Regions from separate parts of the Homo sapiens genome. Here all the other regions are reported to be linked to region 4. The links are microRNA targets in miRTarBase. Many come from high-throughput screens and were not tested one by one. Region 4 holds a microRNA gene; each other region holds the end of a gene's coding sequence.
The links. The annotated mature microRNA hsa-miR-548h-5p reads AAAAGUAAUCGCGGUUUUUGUC and lies in region 4 at 2,747-2,768, shown strand. An mRNA with a match to its seed (bases 2 to 7 or 8) in the 3' UTR can be bound and repressed. Matches are read on the target gene's strand: a 7mer-m8 pairs with bases 2 to 8, a 7mer-A1 pairs with bases 2 to 7 and ends in A, and an 8mer does both.

Region 1: the mRNA of UBE2D2 is a reported target of hsa-miR-548h-5p. Seed matches in the 3' UTR shown: 7mer-m8 at 2,481-2,487.
Region 2: the mRNA of ERH is a reported target of hsa-miR-548h-5p. Seed matches in the 3' UTR shown: 7mer-A1 at 1,534-1,540.
Region 3: the mRNA of TNIP2 is a reported target of hsa-miR-548h-5p. Seed matches in the 3' UTR shown: 8mer at 3,980-3,987.

What each region holds. Positions count from the first base shown.
Region 1 is chr5:139,625,652-139,630,945 of GRCh38, forward strand. UBE2D2 (ubiquitin conjugating enzyme E2 D2) reads left to right here. Exons shown (of 7, transcript NM_003339.3): 7 at 1,105-2,783. The coding sequence ends at 1,150. Among named protein-coding and RNA genes, the nearest start is that of CXXC5, 20 kb to the right of the region's middle.
Region 2 is chr14:69,376,486-69,381,779 of GRCh38, reverse strand. It overlaps ERH (ERH mRNA splicing and mitosis factor), which reads left to right. Exons shown (of 4, transcript NM_004450.3): 4 at 1,140-1,652. The coding sequence ends at 1,242. It also overlaps a transcript of GALNT16 not described here. Among named protein-coding and RNA genes, the nearest start is that of ERH, 19 kb to the left of the region's middle.
Region 3 is chr4:2,737,723-2,742,925 of GRCh38, forward strand. TNIP2 (TNFAIP3 interacting protein 2) reads right to left here. Exons shown (of 6, transcript NM_024309.4): 6 at 3,926-4,798. The coding sequence ends at 4,535. Among named protein-coding and RNA genes, the nearest start is that of TNIP2, 16 kb to the right of the region's middle.
Region 4 is chr8:27,046,400-27,051,693 of GRCh38, reverse strand. It overlaps MIR548H4 (microRNA 548h-4), which reads left to right and starts at 2,731; the gene lies at 2,731-2,841.

The DNA.
Region 1 (5,294 bases), not on the chromosome of region 4:
TGGAATGCAGTGGCACAATCTTGGCTCACTGCAGCCTCTGCCTCCCAGGCTCAAGTGATTCCTGTGCCTCAGCCTCCTGAGTAGCTGGGATTACAGGCGCACATCACCATGCCTGGCTAATTTTTGTGTTTTCAGTAGAGACGGGATTTTGCCATGTTGGCCAGGCTGGTCTGGAACTCCTGACCTCAAGTGATCCAGCTGCTCCAGCCTCCCAAAGTGCTGGGATTACAGGCGTGAGCCACCACACCCGGCCTAGCACCCGTTTTTTAATAGGAGAATTATAGAATCATTTGCTCTGCTTACTTTATTCAAATGTTCTTCTGAAGCAATAAACCCATTCATTTTGTCAACCAAATTGTTGAAATTAGTTCTACCAGAACCAATTGTTTTATTGATATGAAAGGAAAGTTTGGTTTTTTTTCCCCCTTTTTTTTTGAGACAGAGCCTCACTCTGTCACCCAGGCTATGGTACAGTATTGCAATCTCAGCTCACTGCAACCTCTGCCTCCTGAGCTCAAACGATCTTCCCACCTCAGCCTCCTGAGTAGCTGGGACTATAGTCATGCGCCACCACACCCTGCTAATTTTTGTATTTTTTTGTAGAGACAGGGTTTTATCATGTTGCCCAGGCTGGTGTGAAACGCCTGGGCTCAAGTGATCCACCCGACTCAGCCTCCCAAAGTGCTGGGATTACAGGTGTGAGCCAACATGCCCAGCCTTCTGTCGGTTTAATCATTATTAGTATATGAGTTCAAGAACTATGTAATGTAGAATCATATAATTTCAAGTACTTTAAATGAATGAATTGAGTGGACATCTTTTGTAGAAATAGGCCAATCAAGTATGGAATAAGGTATATGCCAACAAATACTAAAATTTAATCAGAACCCTCTATAAGTAGCAATTAAAGGAGACTTTCACATTTTACAGCTCCTTCCCATTATCATTGAATTAATCCTTATCAGAAATTTGGGATAGAAAGGGGCCTTTCCTTGAATGTCCTATAAGCTACTCTCTTCAAGTTACTTGATGGGATAATGAATGGAATCTGTTGCTTACTGACTCCACACCTATGTTAAGCCAAGCTTCTCTTTGTGTGTACAGGTACAACAGAATAGCTCGGGAATGGACTCAGAAGTATGCGATGTAATTAAAGAAATTATTGGATAACCTCTACAAATAAAGATAGGGGAACTCTGAAAGAGAAAGTCCTTTTGATTTCCATTTGACTGCTTTCTATGAGCCCACGCCTCATCTTCCCCTGTGCACATGTTTACCTGATACAGCAGTGCTGCGTGTTGTACATACTTGGAACAACAAACTAGAAATACTGTACTTCTGTACCAACATTGCCTCCTAGCAGAGAAGTGTGTGTGTGACAAGCCAGTTCTACAGGCATTACCTAGGTGTGAGACTAAAAGCTTTTCTTATTGACTTAAATTTGGATAACAGCAAGGTGTGAGGGGGGTGGTGGGTATGGTGTGTGCTTGGATGGGAAAGAAAAGGCTCCACTCACCTATAGGAGATTATTTTTAAGTGGAATCCATTTAAACTCAAAACAGTTATGAAAAGCAAGGTGAAGAACATGAAGCTGTGTCTGTATTCATTTTATTCCGAAGGAGCTACGTCTTAGGTGAAAGTTATGACCAACCAGATTAAACTCTACCCACATCCTGCATTTTAAGGTCTAAGTTTAACTGGTCAACATTTAAATGGATTGGAGCTATTAGTACATCAAGTGTGATGGGCTTTGTTCCCAACTCTTTTACATCTCCCTACCCCTTCAACCTTTGGCCTTTCAGCCCTTCTTTCTCTCTTCCATATTCTTTGGTTTGTATGTGGTTTCTCAGTTAATACATAGCTAATAGCTCTTATTTTTCTTATGTTTTTAACCGCTTAGGTCTATTTGGATGTAAGGGTGAAAATTCATTTGATGGAAATACTTGTGTATATTTAAAGACCCAATTGCTCCTCTGGAGCTTGTACTTTCAAGAATGATTAATCTGTGTAATAAACTGGTTACTACAGTCATTACATATAATTTTGTGTGAATAGGCTTTTTCATTTTTAAGAAGTTTGTCTAGCTGAGATTAGTGGTGGATTTTCTCCCACTTCTGAAATGTTCATTTATACTGGTTGCATTTTAAGATCATGAAACAATTCCAGTTACATTGTAAAAAGGATATCTTACGAGTAATTTTATTGAACAAGTTAGAGGCATAAGCTTAAGAGCATTTCCATGAAACAACACATGCAGCATTCCAGGAACTTGATTGTTAAATTCAATAAGAAATTTGCTTTATTAATGAAACTAAGCTGCATTTCATCAAAACCTTGTGACATTCCCTTGGTACATAGGACATAAAACACAGAGGCATTGCTATTTGGTAAGTTAAGCTTCTGTGATTGTAATTATAAAAGAGCAACATTGACCAAACCTGGGAAACAAGAGCACAGTCTTGTTTGGAGAGTCTACATAATTACTTTGCACTAACATTTGCAGGATGTTCACACAATTTTAAATTGTACTGTATGTGGCTTTTTGAAGTCTTCCCTTGACCCTAGTAAAATATAGCTTGAAACTTGTAAACAACTGTGTTTGCCAGAAACATCATTCATGTGAACTAGGCAAGTTACCTTTTTTCCCCCCTTCTTTTCCTAATTGTAAACTAGGCCAACCTGAAAGCCATGGCTGATGCTCTAGCCATCAGGTTCTTTCAAATGCATCTTTACACTCTTGCACAAAAGTTAAGGAATAAATGTCCACTGCTTTTGGTTTTAAACTTGTTCACCTTGTCTTATCTCTCACTGTCACTGCTCCTCCACCTTGGAACTTGTGTGATAAAACCCAAAACCTCTTACAGTTCTCTTATAAGCATTTCAAGCATCTCTTATTAGCATCCTTGACTTTGCAGAAAAGGCTTAACTGTTAACAGTTGTGGGGAAAGGAGTTAGAATTTAGCTTAAGCCTAAAATCACCCTGTATTCTCAGTATTATGGGCAAGTGGGACTTCATCTTTTTTTTTTTTTTTTTTTTTTTTTAAGAGAGGGACAGGGTCTCATTCTCTTGCCTAAGCTGGAGTGCAGTCGGAGTCATGACAGCACAGCTCACTGCAGCCTCAACCTTCTAGGCTCGAACAATCCCCCTACCTCAACCTCCCAAGTTGCTGGGACTTATGGTACATGCCACCACACCTGGCTAATTTTTAAATTTTTTTTAGAGACAGGAGTCTCACTATGTTGCCCAAGCTGGTCCTGAACTCCTAGGCTCAAGTGATCCTCTTGTCTCAGCCTCCCAAAGTGCTGGGACTAGAGACAGCCACCATACCCAGCCTTCCATCAATTATTGGCTTGCTATTAACTACATACTGTTGACCGTGGGTCAGTTGCACAGATCCTGAAAGCTCATTCTGTATTTGCCTGTCATCTTAGAGAGCAGCCAGCTTATTACCATTTATTAGATCATAATATGGATATTTTCACAAGAGTGTTCTTAAGTATTTTTAAGTGCCAAATGAAAGCCATCCTCCAGGTGTGCAGGTGCCAATTGAAGGGGTTTGGATGGTCACAAACAACATTAGGCCCTTGAATGGGGTTTGGTCTTGCCCATTTGAGTATGAAGCTTCTTTGGTCCAGTCTGTGTATATGTGCCTGGCCAGAAAGAAAGCCCAGTGAGAGAAGCCACCTTTCCCACTCACCAAAAACAACAACAACAACAAAAAATCCCTCAGGGTTGTTTTCATCTGGACCACATTGCTCTTCACAGAAGTTTCTATGACTTTGTCGTATGTAAAATCCAGTCTGTAGCAACCTTGATTATCTTGGAAAAGTTACAGGAGAACGTCAAGTGTATGGTTTCCTTTTGTTTGCTTCTTAATAGCCCAAAGTACTTTGTCAAGTTAAAGCTGGGGCAGTGTCTTTTGGTAAAATGAAGTCACTTCAGATACTTATATGCTTTGCTATTGGCGAATCAGTAGTCAAAGGTATCATTGTCCTGCGAGTTTATGCACTTTGAGTAGTACAGAGACTTGGAAGGAGGGCGGTAGGGGTGGGGAGAGAGAAGTTAGGAAGGTCTGTGAAGAGAAGGAAAAGGTAGTTGTCAGAGAGAGACCCTTTCTCTACACTAACCTAGCAATAGAGGCCTTCTTTTTCCACTTCCAACTGCTAAAATACTCTGCTTTCTGAATCATTCCTCTTTGTTTCAACAAGTTATTTTGAGACCTGGGTAGCTTGTCAGGAGAAATGGATTATTTCTAAATTATGGCTGGAATGCCTATAAACTGTCCCTTGTCTGTAATTAAGGTGAAACTCTGGCTTTGTCTCTGTGTGCTGTATGGCACCCCTTAACTACCCAGGGTAAGTTTTGAAGAGGAGAACTCTCAGCTGGGCCCTGTGGCTCATGCCTGTAATCCCAGCATTTTGGGATGCCAAGGTGGGCGGATCACCTGAGGTCAGGAGTTCAAGACCAGCCTGACCAACATGGAGGAACCTCGTGTCTACTAAAAACACAAAATTAGCCGGGCATGGTGGCACATGTCTGTAATCCCAGCTACTCAGGAGGCTGAGGCAGGAGAATCGCTTGAATCCGGGAGGCGGAGGTTGTGGTGAGCCGAGATCGCGCCATTGCACTCCAGCCTGGGCGACAAGAGCAAAACTCAGTCTTAAAAAAAAAACAAAAAAAACTCTCTTCTCATTCCCAGGTCTTCAGGATTATAAACACATCTTTCCTTCCTTCCAAATCAGGAGTAAGCATTTTTATTACTCCTACAGAAAACTGTAACTAGTGTTAGGAATCCATCTCCTTTTGATTTCCTCATTTTCCCTTTATGAAACACTATTTCAAGTGATGGGTTATTTTGGTGAGTGATGTTAGGCAGGAGAAAGCAGGTTTGTTTTTTGTTGTTGTTGTTTGGAGACAGAGTCTCACTGTCGCCCAGGTTGGAGTGTAGTGGTGCGATCTTGGCTCACTGCAACCTCCACCTCCCAAGTTTAAGTGATTTTCCTGCCTCAGCCTCCTGAGTAGCTGAGATTATAGGCACATGCCACCCACGCCTGGCTAATTTTTGTATTTTTAGTAGAGACGGTTTCACCATGTTGTCCAGGCTGGTCTTGAACTCCTGACTTCAGGTGATCTGCCCACCTTGGCCTCCCAAAGTGCTGGGATTACAGGCATGAGCCACCACACCCAGCCAAGAAAGCAGATTTTTAATATGAAAATAACTGAAGGTAGCAAACTATTTGCACTATACATCCAGCAAGAGGAAATAGACTTCCTTTGGGGCACTCCTGGAGCT
Region 2 (5,294 bases), not on the chromosome of region 4:
GTGGCAGAGGTTGCAGTGAGCCAAGATGGCACCACTGCACTCCAGACTGAGTTACAGAGTGAGATTCTGTCTCAAAAAAAAGCAGGGGTCGGTGGTGGGGGTGGTGGGAAGTGAGGATAATTGTACCTACTCACAGGGTTGTAAAAATGAGTTAATTCAGATAAGAATTTAAAGCGACACCCAGTACTCTGTGACATCTTACTAGATACTACTCACAGTCCCATTGGAGTTTTACTGCTAATGCTAGTCTGTGTACTCCTTTTCGTTCTGATTAGAGATATTTTGGAGCTTACTGTATCTTCTGATAATTCTTCTCCATAGGCCTCTAGCATTATTTATTTTAAAAAGCAAATCCTAAAATATAGGTTTAAGATTTCCTTAATACTTTACAGGGGGAAGGAAATTAGCAAGAAATCTTTGTTGCCAGTACATGTTTTTTAAAGGTTTTTTAGTTAATTCAGAATAAACATTGCAAATCTAAAGTTTGTTCTAGTATTGTTGTTTTTGTTTTTTTGAGATGGAGTCTCACTCACAGGAGTGCAGTGGCACGATCTCGGCTCACTGCATCCTCCACCGGTTGAAGCAATTCCCTTGCCTCAGCCTCCTGAGTAGGCAGGACTACAGGCGTGCACCACCATGCCCAGCTAATTTTTGTATTTTAGTAGAGACAAGGTTTCACCATGTTGGCCAGGCTAGTCTTGAACTCCTGACCTCAAGTGATCACCCGCCTCAGCCTCCCAAAGTGCTGGGATTACAGGCATGAGCCACTGCACCCAGCCAATTTTTTTGTTGTTGTTTTTTAATCACTAAAGGAACCATAAAAATAGAAACTATGTAGGAGGAAGAACACATGGTTTCTGGTCATACTCTGTCAAGAAGTAGATATGTAACATATTGGGCATTTAACTTAAAAATTCTAAGTCATGTTTTCTTTTTCCACTATAAGATTGTACTAGGTGATATAAAGTTCATGTCACTTAAAATTCAACGACTGTGTAAGTAGCTCTTTCAGCTTTTCATTAAGTTCATTTTTGGAAATGTGCACATCTATGCCATCATTGGGCAGTTATAATTTGGGGATTTAAACACCTGGCAGTGATTGACCACTGTGACTTTGCTTATTCCCTTTCTCTCCTCAGTTACCGAGCTGATACCCAGACATACCAGCCTTATAACAAAGACTGGATTAAAGAGAAGATCTACGTGCTCCTTCGTCGGCAGGCCCAACAGGCTGGGAAATAATTGTGTTGGAAGCACTGGGGGGGTTGGGGTGGGCTTGGAACACAGGTGTGTACAGCGTGCTGTAGTGGAAGTTTTGTATCATAGTAATCCTGTTTCCACTTTGTTATACTCTAGCCAAGATTGACTGTATTAGATGAAATGTGAGGATCTTGTTCAATCGGAAACCCCCGTTACCTCCTCTTTTTCTTTCTCTTTCTTTTTTTTTTTTTACTTAAACATTTTTATGATGATTTAGATGGAAGTTGTTCTTCGTCACTTAATGTTGGTTCCAGTCCTTCAACTGTTCATATCTACTTTATAACATTCACATACTAACCCTTCTTCAAGATGGGGTGGGGGGTGGAAATGCAGTTTAGCCATGTCCTCAAGATAAAGTCTTGGTAAAAATAAATAAATGTCCTTTAGTTATATTTTCTCCCTGAGTGCTTTTTTTTTTTTTGTCTTTGAACATTGAATTTTCTTGCAAAGCATTTTTTCATTTTAAGTTTAAAAACCAATAGCTGCTACACAAAGAATTTGAAGAAAGTTTAAGTAGTGCGCAACACATTTTGCTGTGAAGCTAATAACACTTTTACCTCACTTTTCCAGCATAATTAAATGAATCTTAATTATAGCTCCAAGGTTTGTACCTACTATTGACGCAAACGTTATAAATGACTTTCTGGTGATAAAGCTTGTCCGCAGCAGCAGCAGCAGACAGATGAACTTCTTAGTGTTGATCAGATGAAGTACTCTTTCTAGGAGGTCTTTGTGCCCTTTTCAGAGCCTTCAGTTGGATACTAGTTACCCACTACTGTAGGGAAGCTATAAGGGCAAGGGAAAAACCACAAAAAAGTGTAAGATAGTCTTGTCTCTTTTTTGTTGTTGTTTTTTTGAGACAGTCTCACTCTGTACCCAAGCTGGAGTGTACTTCCAATCATGTCAATCATGTATTTTCAATCAGCAAGTACATGAGCACTCTCTGATTCTGCTATTAGCACTTTACCAACAGCCAGTGATATCTTGACACAGCATAAGATTGAAAGTTTTTTGGAAGGCTCATGATTGGTTTAATATCCCCCTGTTCCTGCCTCTACTTGCACATTAGGGCCTTAACTATTTTTTTTGTTGTTTTATGCAAGACAAAATTTTACCTAGAACATACTCATATGTGCTCAGTTTTTCTATAGAATAATCTGGTTAATGAAATGTTATCACTGTACCAAGAGATTATTAGAATTTTAGGGTACCTGACAAAATTAAGTAGAGTTGTAGTTAATGTTTCACTGTGAAACCAACCAAATTTTAAAGCTAAAATAGGCCGGGTGCGGTGGCTCACGCCTATAATCCCAGCACTTTGGGAGGTTGAGGTGGACAGATTATTTGAGGTCAGGAGTTCAAGACCAGCCTGACCAGCATGGTGAAACCCTGTCTCCACTAAAAATACAAAAAGTAGCCGGGCATGGTGGCACACGCTTGTACTATCCCAGCTACTTAGGAGGCTGAGGCAGGAGGATCCCTTGAACCAGGGAGACAGAGGTTGCAGTGAGTGAGCCGAGATTGCACCACTGCACTCCAGCTTGGGTGACAGAGACTCTGTCTCAAAAAAAAAATAAATAAAGCTAAAATAATCTCACACAAAAAGAAATAGATCCAAAAGTAATCTGATTGTCCTGTTTTTCATTTGGCCTGTCCTGCTAAAATAGTTTTATTTCTTTAACAAATAGAGGATCTTTGGCTTTATTTATTTATTAATTTATTTTTTAAATACTCTAGAGCAGATCTGAAGGGAATGAGTTCCCTTGATTCTCAGATATAGTACCATTTCTGGTGTTGGGCTTACAGAGGAAAATATGAGAAAGGAATGTGAGAAAGTATCTGGGTTCTAGATGTTGAGTGATGAGAACAAAAAGAAGGGGAGCAGTGTTTGGAATCATTAAAAGCTTAAGGAAGACTAGAACTGGAATAAATACAAAGAAACATTTGTCTATGTCCCATAATACACAGAAAAAGAGCCTAAAGTAGCCTTTTTGTGAAGGTGAAATGTGCAATGAAAGTTTCTGTGGTTTGGCCTAGGTACAACCACTGTCCTTGTGTTAGAGATTTAGAGTGTTGGTTGATTGGCCTTTCCCCAACCACAAGTAAAACAGGTTTGATTTCCGCTTATTAAGTGATATTTTATACTGCTACATAAAGGTGAAACCTCCCAGACAGATTATACAATTTCCGATTCTCTAATCCAGATTTATAATCTAAATTTATATACCTGAGAATTTCTAAAATATTTCTTGATAATGGCCATTTCTGTCCTGTAGTGCTTGATTTAAGAGGTCCCAGGAGTATAAAAAGAGTTCAACGATCTCACTTCCCTTCCAGTTCTCTGGCTTAATATATTTCCAGCAACTTACTAAATGCTCAAACAGGTTATGTGTCTTAACTCCCATTGTTGGGACAGAAGTAGTAGTGAACTGTTTTACTTTCAGCAAGAGAGGGACTTAAGGGATGAGCAAATAATTTTGTACTGTCCTAAAAGCAGACCAGGCTGGGTTGGGGGAGAGAGGACAGGGTAGTTTTCTCAGTATGATTGTCAACTTTACATCAGGATGGTCTTCCTTTATCAAATTGTTTTAACTAATCATTTGAAGGTTGGAATGAAAATCAGGATTGATACATAAATTGATTAATGTTACTATATTTGTAAGGATACTTTTATGTTCATGTTCTTTTTTTTTTTTTTTTTTTTTTTTTTTTTTTGAGACAGTCTCACTCTATCACCCAGGCTGTAGTGCAGTGGTGCAATCATGCCTCACTGCAGCCTCAATCTCCCAGGCTCAGGTGATCCACCTTAGCCTCCTGTGTAGCTGGGATTACAGGTGCACACCACCATGGCCAGCTAATTGTTTAAATTATTTTTTGTAGAGATGAGGTCTCCTTATGTTGCCCAGGCTGGTCTTGAGATCCTGGACTCAAGTGATCCACCTGCCTTGGCCTCCCAAAGTGTTGGGATTACAGGCATAAACCACTGCACCCAACCTAAGGATACTTTTGGAAGAAATATTAATTTATATGTTAGCATAATGATACTAGTATTGCCACTTAGACATAGCATTTTACTGCCTAGGAAATATTTCTACATATTTATCATCACAGCAACCCTTTGAGATAGGAAATAATTATATCTCTATTAATGGTAAAAATAAAAATAAAAATTTAGATTGCCTAAGTGATTCACCAGATCACAAAGCAATACCAAAATTTTGCTAGATGAAAAAGACAAGGTTTTAACCTCAAAGACCTTGAAGGGGAGCCCCATAATATGAATAGCTGTGCTAAATAATGGACCTCTAATTCTTGTCAAAGGGACCTTTTTAGACTCAATCAAATATTTGGATTCACAAGACCTGAAGAGGTCTTACTTGGCACCAATTTAATCAAAAGCACAGGGGACACAGAAAACAGCTTGCCAGCCCAGCATCATCAAGTGTTTCTCTTCCACGGGAGTATTCCTCATGGCAGTTCACACAGCCATCCAAGAATTATCCTCCGAACACACGGAAACACACAGTAGCTCAGATGCAAGAGATAAGACTTAGGTAAGTGCAAGAGCTACCCCAACTTAGAAGCTTCATGTACAACAAGAGCCACTAACTCTTGTAATAGCTTCATGGACATAGTTTCTAGGTCCCTGCAAGGAGCATGCCGCATTTACAAGTCATTGTATTCAGAGAAACACAAGGCCATGTCTTCCCATCAGGTATTCATTGTTTCTCCCAGTCTAGGTGTAATTTATCACATAAGGGCCATGTTTCTCATAAGCAGTCTTGTCTAGTAATACATTGCACCATTGTGTTTCCTCAGGAACAGAGCTACAATGTTAACCCAAGTTGACCATGAGTCAGTGTATTACATAATGGTGCAATGTATTACTAGACCAGATTGCTTATGAGAAGCATGGCCCTAAGTGGTTACCTTGGGTTAACTTTCTAGCTCTGTTCCTGAGGAAACATAATGGTGCAATGTATTACTAAACAGGATACTGATGGAATGATTAACCTCAGAAGAAAAAGTGACAT
Region 3 (5,203 bases), not on the chromosome of region 4:
TTGGTCCCTCCTACAACCAAGAAGATCCACAATGCTTAGTGGGTCTATTTGGATTTTGGAGGCAACACATTCCTCACTTAGATGTGTTACTCCAGCCCATTTATCTAGTGACCTAAAAGGCTGCCAGTTTTGAGTGGGGTCCAGAACAGGAGAAGGCTCTGCAACAGGTCCAGGCTGCTGTGCAAGCTGCTCTGCCACTTGGGCCATATGACCCAGCGATCCAATGGTGCTTGAGGCGTCAGTAGCAGATAGGGATGCTGTTTGGAGCCTTTGGCAGGCCCCCATAGGTGAATCACAGTGGAGGCCTGTAGGATTTTCACCCCATAGGTGAATCACAGCGGAGGCCTGTAGGATCTGGAGAAGATGGCCCTGCCATCTTCTGCAGCTAACTACTCTCCTTTTGAGAGACAGCTCTTGGCCTGTTACTGGGCTTTGGTGGAAACTGAATGTTTGACTATGGGTCATCAAGTCACCATATGACCTGAACTGCCCATCATAAACTGGGTGCTTTCTGACCCATCACCATAAAGTAGGTCGTGCACAGCAGCATTCCATCATCAAAGAGAAGTGGCACATATGTGATTGAGCTCAAGCAGGTCCTGAAGGCACAAGCAAGTTACATGAAGAAGTAGCTCAAATGCCCATGGTCTCCACTCCTGCCACCCTGCCTCCTCTCCCCCAGCCTGCACCAATGGCCTCATGAGGAGTTCCCTATGATCAGTGGACAGAGGAAGAGAAGACTAGGGCCTGGCTCACAGATGCTTCTGCACGATATGAAGGCACCACCCAAAAGTGGACAGCTGCAGCAATACAGCCTCTTTTTAGGACATGCCTGAAGGACAGCAGTGAAGGGAAATCTTCCCAGTGGGCAGAAGTTGGAGCGGTGCACCTGGTTGTGCACTTTGCATGGGAGGAGAAATGGCCAGGTGTGTGATTATGTACTGATTCATGGGCTGTAGACAATGGTTTGCCTGGATGGGACTTGGAAGACAATGGTCAGGGGCTTGAAAGAAGCATTATTGGAAAATTGGTGACAAATTTGAGGAAGAGGTATGTGGATGGACCTCTCCAAGTGGTCAAAAACTGAAGATATTTGTATCCCCTGTGAGTGCTCACCAGCGGATGACCTCAACAGAGGAGAATTTTAATAATCAAGTGGGTAGGATGACCTGTTCTGTGGACACCACTCAGCCTCTTTCCCCAGCCACCTGCCATCGCCCAATGGGCCCATGAACAGAGTGGCCATGGTGGCAGGGATGGAGATTACACATGGAGATTCAGCAACATGGACCTCCACTAGCCAAGGCTGACTTGTCTACAGCCACTGCTGAGTGCCCAATTTGGCAGCAGCAGAGACTAACACTGAGCCTCAATATGGCACCATTCTTCAGGGTGATCAGCCAGCTACCTGGTGGCAGGTTGATTATATTGGACCTCTTCCATCATGGAAAGGGCAGAGGTTTGTCCTCACCGGAATAGACACTTACTCCTGATGTGGGTTTGCCTATCTTGCACGCAGTGCTTCTGCCAAGACTACCATCCATGGACTCAAGGAATGCCTCATCCACCATCAGGGTGTTCCACACAGCATTGCCTCTGAGCAAGGCACTCACTTTACAGCTAAAGAAGTGTGGCAGTGGGCTCATGCTCATGGAATTCACTGATCTTACCACGTTCCCCATCATCCTGAAGCAGCTGGATTGATAGAACGGTGGAATGGCCTTCTGAAGTCACAATTACAACACCAACTAGGTGACAATACTTTGCAGGGCTGGGACCAAGTTCTCCAGAAGGCCATGTATGCTCTGAATCAGCATCCAAGATATGATATTGTTTCTCCCTTAACCAGGATGCACGGGTCCAGGAATCAAGGCACTCAAGTGGAAGTGGCACCACTCGCCATCACCCCTAGTGATCCACTAGCAAAATGTTTGCTCCCTGTTCCCATGACATTATGTTCTGCTGGCCTAGAGGTCTTAGTTCCAGAGGGAGGAACGCTGCCACCAGGAGACACAACTATTCCATTAAGCTAGAAGTTAAGATTGCCACCTGGACACTCTGGGCTCCTCCTACCTTTAAGTCAACAGGCTAAGGAGGAGTTATGGTGTTGGCTGGAGTGATTGATCTGGACTATCAAGATGGAATCAGTCTCGGCCGGGTGTGGTGGCTCACGCCTGTAATCCCAGCATTTTGGGAGGCCAAGGCGGGCGGATCATGAGGTCAGGAGATTGAGACCATCCTGGCTAACACGGTGAAACCCCGTCTCTACTACACAAAATACAAAACATTAGCTGGGCATGGTGGCAAGTGCCTGTAGTCCCAGCTACTCGGGAGGCTGAGGCAGGAGAATGGTGTGAACCCGTGAGGCGGAGCCTGCAGAGAGCCGAGATTGCACCACTGCACTCCAGCCTGGGCGACAGAGCGACACTCCATCTCAAAAAAAAAAAAAAGATGGAATTAGTCTCTTACTCCACAACAGAGGTAAGGAAGAGTATGCATGGAATACAGGAGATCCATTAGGACATCTCTTAGTATTATCTAATGCCCTGTGATTAAGGTCAATGGGAAACTACAACAGCCCAATCCAGGCAGGACTACAAATCAGGAATGAAGGTTCGGGTCACTCCACCAGGAAAAAAACCACCATCTGCTGAGGTGCTTGCTGAAGGCAAAGGGAATACAGAATGGGTAGTAGAAGAAGGTAGGCATCAATAACGGCTATGACCACATGACCAGCTGCAGGAACCAGGACTGTAATTGCTGTGAGTATTTCCTCCTTTTGATAAAAAACGTTTGTGCATGTATACGCTAGTACTAAGAAAATCTCTTCATTTCCTTTCTCCTTTATCGTGTGACATAAGATTTATTGACTTCACATCAGCATTTAAGTACCGTCAGTCACCTTGGCCGGGTGTGGTGGCTCATGCCTGTAATCCCAGCACGCTGGGAGGCAGAGGCAGGCTGATCACCTGACGTCAGGAGTTCGAAACCAGCCAGGCCAACGTGGCGAAACCCCTTCTCTACTAAAAATACAAAAATTAGCCGGGCGTGGTGGCAGGCGCCTGTAATCCTAGCTAATCGGGAGCCTGAGGTGGGAGAATCACTTGAACCTGGGAGGCGGAGGTAGCAGTGAGCTGAGCCGAGATCACACCACTGCACTCCAGCCTGGGGAACAAGAAACTCCGTTTCAAAAAACAAAAAGTAAAGTATTGTTACCTTTATGTAATAGTATTATTTGGGTTGGGGACTGGTGCGTTTCCGGTTGTATGAAGGATAGTTGTATTATGTTAGGCATAATTGTGACTTTATTTTTGTCTTTATTTGAAGATTATTATCTCAGGACTATGTATGGGTTCAAGTAGACAAGGGGTGGACTCATGATGGTTAATACTGAGTGTCAACTTGATTGAAGGATAGGAAGTATTGATCTGGGTGTGTCTGTGAGGGTGTTGCCAAGGAGATTAACATTTGAGTCAGTGGGCTGGGGAAGGCAGATCCACCCTCAATCGGGGTGGGCACCATCTAATCAGCTGCCAGCGTGGCCAGAATAAAGCAGGCAGAAAAACGTGAAAAGAGAGACTGGCCTGGCCTCCCAGCCTACATCTTGCTCCGTGCTGGATGCTTCCTGCCCTTGAACATAGGACTCCCAAGTTCTTCAGTTTCGGAACTCGGGACTGGCTCTCCTTGTTCCTCAGCCTGCAGACGGCCTATTGTGGGAACTTGTGATCGTGTGAGTTAATACTTGACACACTCCCCTTTATATATCTATCTGTTCCATTAGTTCTGTCCCTCTAGAGAACCCTAATACAGCCAGGCTCCCACTGACCCCCTTGTCTTGGTGCCCTGGCAGAAGGCAACAGCAGGAGTGTTTTCCCATGCCAGCTGCTGTAAATACTGTTCAGTCCCTGCACCCCAGCTTCCAACACAAATTCTCAGAGCAGTCACAGCAGCAAGAACGTTTATTATAAAAATAGGTGAATAAAGTAAGTGTGCTTTAACTTCCGGCTGGATGACAAATGCTACTGAAATGCAGTTTCTCAGTGCAGACATGTGGCTCGCAATGGCGGGGGTGGCCACCCTAGTGTGACGTGCAGCCGCAATACTCCATTTGACTGGTTCGAGGCAGAGAGGCGACGCTTTATTCCATAGAACAGGATGGGGCTCCCACCCTGGGGACCATACAAGTGACTCCCTCAGGCAGCCACCCCTTTCTAGGCAGGCTGGGGGAGGGGCTGGCACACCAGCACCAGATAGCTCTGGCTTAAGCCTGATGGAGACACAGACTGGGACCTCCCTCTGCCAGATGTTCCTGACCCCATCTCCACCTCCAGCCTCCAGCCTCACTGGCAGTTCCCTGTGACCCAGCCTGTTCCATAGCCAAAGGGACCAAAGTGAACGATCAGAGTGCCCCGCAACTATTCTAGGGGCCTTGGCTCTCAGTAGAGCTCAACCCATGGCATCTGAGAGCACCCACCCTGTCCCTGAGGGCAGCTGCACCGGGCCAGGAGGCCGCAAGGGCACGGGTGAGTCTCGGTCACTGGCAGCACTCAGCCACATGCCTGAGGAGCTCTTCCCCTTGCTCGTCACTGAAGCACTGCAGGCAGTGAGGGCACTGAAGGTCCCCCTGGCCTCTCTGGGCCGCGCCAGGATGCCCGCCCTCTGCAGGGGGTTCTGGCTGCTGGGACCCAGTCCCAGGCCTCCAGCCACCAGGCACCATAAGCTCTAATGCGTCGGCGGCCAAATACTTGGCAGTTTTGCTCCCAGCGTGAATCCGGCCGGCGTCTGGCTCTCGAGAATCCTGGAGAAAAGGCAAGGGTGTATATACGTGGGCTGTGCTGACGGTCACAAAGCCAGGTCTCAGGTTCCAGCAACCAGAGGCACTTCACCTATCCCTGAGCGGAACTTCAGCCCCTCACTTTGCTTCCTGCTGCGCCCCAGAGCCCAGACAAGGGGGCGCTCAGTGAATGACTGAGGATCACACACACGCTCCGTCATGTGCTCATGAAGAAGTAGGCCCTGGCGTGGTCCACCCCCCAGCCCCTTGGTGGAAGTCCTGTTCAGTTGGACCTATCGGCCCCAGGAGACCTGACTGAGAAGGTGGCCCTGATGACGTGGCCCACAGGCCACCACAGAGTGGAGGTGGCAGAGCCTCTGGTGGGGAGCTGGGCAAACTGAGTACCAACCCTACTCTGCACCTCCTCTG
Region 4 (5,294 bases):
GTTCTTGGATTGCTGTCTTGACATCTATGAGTAACCTTATGGCCATTATTTAGAATTTTCTGTCAGGTAAATCACAAAACTCCACTTCATTCAAGTATGTTTTTGGAGATTTATCTTGTTACTGTTTGTTTTGTTTGTTTGTCTTATTGTTTGTTTGTTTTGTTCCTATTTCTTTCTTTTCCTTGATTTTCAGTATTGGTTTTTTTACATTAGGTAGAAACCTACTTCTTAGTAGACTGAGATTGCATAGAAGGTTTCTACCAGTCCGTTTGACTAGAGATTTTAAGGTGCCCCTCTTATTTCGGTGTTTGTTCAGACTGCTGTGCCTATACCAGAAGGTCTATGACATCTTATAGTACTAGAAGTCTTATCATGACATTTTTGTTAAAAACTTAGAAATTGATTTCTGAAAAGATTTTACAAATGTAGTGAGGTATTTTCTGTATTTTATCATACTAAATAATCTCCAAATAATCTGATAAATGAGCATAGTGTTCAGAAAAAACCTCTTTTAATGTGATGAATCTTTTATAGATTTAGGCATATTTATGGCAAACCGACTATGCTGTATCAGTCCCCCTTCACACCCCCGAGGCTCAACTGAGATTTACCATTGGAATTAATTGTGAATGGCTTTGTCTCAGGACTATAACATATTCCAAGCTAGAGGTTTCAGGAACAAAGCGTCTGCATCTGTCTTTGTCTTTAGCCCTCACGTGAGGAGCCCATTTATTAGCCTTCTTTATTAATTTTTTATATGGAGAAGTGACTCAACATGTACTAGACAGCCAAATAAATTACTGATCATCTCCTTCTATGCACAGTTTCATATTACCAAAAACTATACGCATATATGAGTTAAACAATTTGGTAATATGTTAACAACATAATATCTAGAAGTATCTCACCACTTAAAACATACGTGCACAAACACACATATTCAATCTTGTTGGCTTTTATTTGTTTCAATACTATAATTCTATTTTTGATATCCCTTCAATTATAATTTAGTTTCCATTGTTATGATATATAAATATATTTGTGCATAGACTATTTGGATATTTTATATTTGCATTAACTAAAAATTTTCACCGCATTTTTGCATGCATAATTTTGTTCTATTTCTTTCTCAATTTTGCTTTAAAAAGTATCTTCATTTTGCAGATGTGCAAGCTGAACAGAGGATTAGAACTTATTTTTTCTAAAAATCTAACAGTTAACTTCTAGCAGCATTGAGACCAGAATATAGATCTTCTGACTCCAGGCTCTTTGCGGTAAACATCAATCCCTCTGTGGCTAATGTCCAAACACAAGATGAAAGAAAACGTGGAGCAGAATACAAAAGGAATTATTTCATGCTGCATTCAGAGGTGTCATTCATACCCAGGAAGCACTTTTAATTACCAATCTGGTGTTAATTTTCTTATCTGTGTCTCATCTGTGACTAAACATTATCCAGCCCAGGCTGATAAATTCTGATATGAATCAGATATTATTTCAAATTTATGCTTTAGCCATACCCATGTAAGCAGTCTCCTACCCCATATATCTCATTTACAGAGACTGTTTATTTGTAGTTAACTTTTAAAAATTCAGATTCATAGAATTACAACTATAAATTGCCAAACATGTATAGAATTATTATTATACAGAAAATAATATCAGTGTCATTATATCCAATTAATCTTTCATTCAGAATCTTGTGCAGAACAGATTAAATTGAGAACTTAATTTTTTACACATTCACGATTTAACCAGAGAATGTGGCTCTATTTTATATTAACAAATAATTTCTTTGTTTATTCAATAAGCAGTATTCATTGTATTATTAAAAAATGGTCTACTCATAAGGTTTTAAAACAATTGAGTCTATTTATTTCTTTTCCCCTCATGTGTTAATATTTTTTTTGCCTAGTGCTTTAGAAAATATATGACCTAGAAAGCAGCCTAATTCTTGTCACAGCTGCAACCTTACTGATGCAGAAAATTTGGCATTTATATACAATGAAGCTGTCTCTAATGCTTTGTCCACCTTCTAGAATCCCCTTTGTTTAATTACTATGTTTGGAGCCTCAAAAAGGGCCTGCTTTCAGGAATAAGTGGATGGGAATGAGGGGATGCTGATGTGTGAATAAAACGGTGATATAAAAGAAAATGGCTAATTCCCCCCTCTGGCTGAAGTCTGTGGAGGTTGTTCTGCCTGTCACTGATAGCTGTGTGAGTCAGTCTCCAATTTGGGAATTACAATCCTGACCCACCCCCACACCAGGATTGCCCCTGCTACACGTTTCCATGGTGCCAAACTTCCCTGTCCTAGCACGTGATGGCAATTGCTTCTGCTTTCCCTGATAGATGTGCAGGGTTGGGGACAATGCTTGCCTTCCCAGAGTCACATCAATATCTCGCACAGAGCTGGCACATGGCGGGCCCTTCATAAATGCTTGTTCAATGAAAGAATAAAGACAGTTTAAAATTTGAGCTCATTTCTGCCTTTTTCTTTTTAATAGCTTTATCAAAGTATAAATTGATAGACAGAAAAACCCCACATGTATTTCATGTGTACAATTTGATGAGCTTGGGTATACATATACACCCATGATATCATCACAATCAAAATGATAAACATATCCATCGCCTCCAAAAGTTTCCTCTGCCCCCTGCTTTTTGTGGCAAGTGTACCACAGAAAACTTGAAGCCAAACTTGTGATCCTTCGTTGTTCCATTTCCAAAGCTATTAGGTTGGTGCAAAAGTAATCGCGGTTTTTGTCATTACTTTAATTACTTTACGTTTCATTAATGACAAAAACCGCAATTACTTTTGCACCAACCTAATACTTGCTATCATCACTTCTTGTCTATTTTCCATTCCTCTTATAAATGTTGTACAAACTAAATCACACTTAAATAAAATAAATGGGAAATAAAGAAAAAGGAAAAAAGGATGAATGCAGGGAAAAAACACTGCCTGGGTCTGTCTTCTGTCATTCCCCAAAATAACAAGCACAAGCCCTGATATTCATATTCCCAGCATTCACCAGTTGCCCTTTTTTTTTTTTGAGATGGAGTTTCACTCTTGTCGCCCAGGCTACAGTGCAATGGCGTGATCTTGGCTCACTGCAACCTCCACCTCCCAGGTTCAAGCGATTCTCCAGCCTCAGCCTCTCGAGTAGCTGGGACTACAGGTGTGCACCACCATGCCTGACTAATTTTTGTATTTTTAGTAGAGATGGGGTTTTGCCATGTTGGCCAGGCTGGTCTCAAACTCCTGACCTCAGGTGATCCGCCAGCCTTGGCCTCCCCAGATCCTGGGGTTATAGGCGTAAGCCACCCTGCCCGGCCCAGCTGACTTTTATCTTGAGTGACAGTTTTAGAGAAAGGAGGAGGAGGAAATTAGTATATATGGCAGTAGTATGACATTTCATGATCTTAAAAATAGATTTCACCAACTGTAGAAGGTGTTCCCTAAACTAACTGCCTGTGTAGTCTTAATCTTCTCAACGTAACAACAGGTAGTCCATATTGTGGCAGGGTTGGGAGGTGGTGATGGAAAGGGGAGGTGTGAATTCCACAAGGTCTGAGACTGGGACAGGAAGTCTCCATTTTGGCAGTGCTGGTGGGGTAAGAAAGGGCTAATTAGAAGAAAATGCAGAAGCTGAAGTTGAAAGATCAGGCAAAGGCAAAATACTGGTCTAGTAGGAAGTCCAGATCATGGTCAAGTTGGATGGCTTCAGAGGGAGCTATTCAGATGGGCTCCAAAAGTGTCAGCGATCTTCTCTGATAAGCTACCCAAGCTCAGGGCAGGGATACTGATGCTCATTTTATGGTAAGAGCCAGCAAATGAGATGCACTGATTCCACGTTTGTGGATTCTAAACAGCATTTTGCCTTCCTTCTCTATAGTCCTCTTTGCAGCACTCCACGTTACCACCACGGGCATCCCAGATGTTCCTCCTTCATAAACACCTCTAGTTGTTCGCTTTCCCAACTCATCCCTTTTCCCAGCCTCAAGGAAGATAAATCAGTTTTGGGCATTAACTTCCATCCAGTGCACTGGGCTGAGGAATCAGCATGGCTGATTCTGCTATCACTTTCACGAAGCCTGGGGGCAAATGAGGGGAGTAGGGAGGGGTTGGGACCAGGGCACACACATATTGTGAATCTAGGAAGAATCTTAGGATTAAAGCTGTTGCATTTTCCACTTGTATTGAAGCCTTGGGGGTAATGGCTATCCCTTTACCACACTCTCCACCTGACTAAGCTCTCTTCAGCAGAACAATCAACCCAGGCTATGGCTGACTTCATCCAGGGAGACCTAAATTTTTCCATTTACTAGGACTTCTTGGACTTTTTTTTTTCTTTTAATAACCATATAGTCAGCTTTACCCACAATGCATCACCTCTTGTCATCCTCAGACACAACGTGAGACATAAGTTGCACTGACCAACTGAATCCTTCTAGTCTCATCCTCTCCTCTGAGATCTTCCTACTGCTTCTTTTACTATTAAGTCCTCTAGAATCCCTATGCTATGAAAAACACAATCCATACAATTTCACCCTGAACATCTCCACTTGGACACAATAGACATCTCAAACTTAACATATCAAAAACAGAACTCCTTTTTTTTTTCTTCTTTTTTTTTGATACAGGGTCTTACTCTGTCATCTAGGCTGGAGTGCAGTGGCGCAATCTCGGGTCACTGCAGCGTCCACTTCCCGGGCTCACGCGATTCTCTTGCCTCAGCCACTTCAGCAGCTGGGATTACAGGTGTGCACCACCATGCCCGGCTAACTATTGTATTTTTAGTAGAGATGGAGTCTTGCCATGTTGAGCAGGCTAGTCTCGGACTCCTCAAGCCATCTGCCCTCCTCAATCTCCCAAAGTGCTGGGATTACAGGCATGAGCCATTGTGCTGCCCTAGAATTCTTTATTCTATTCCAATCCTTTCCCCAATCTATTTCTGCTTCACTTGGCTTCCTATTATTGAACAGTTACACCATTCTTCCAGCTGCTCAGGCCAAAAACTTTGGAGTCATCTGTGCTATCTTTCTTATTTTCTAACCCACATCTAAGTCCTCAGCAAGTCCTGTTGACATTTCCTTGAAAAATACAGCTCAAGTTGAACTGCTTCTCATCACCTCCACAGCTACCCAGAGGAAGCTGACGTATGTTCTCCTAACTCAGCCCCACTTTTTCTGTTTTTGTTCACCTATGCTCTATTCTGTTCCCAGCTACTGAAATGATCCTTTTTTTTTGAGACAGAGTCTCGCTCTGTCGCCCAGTCTGGAGTGCAGTG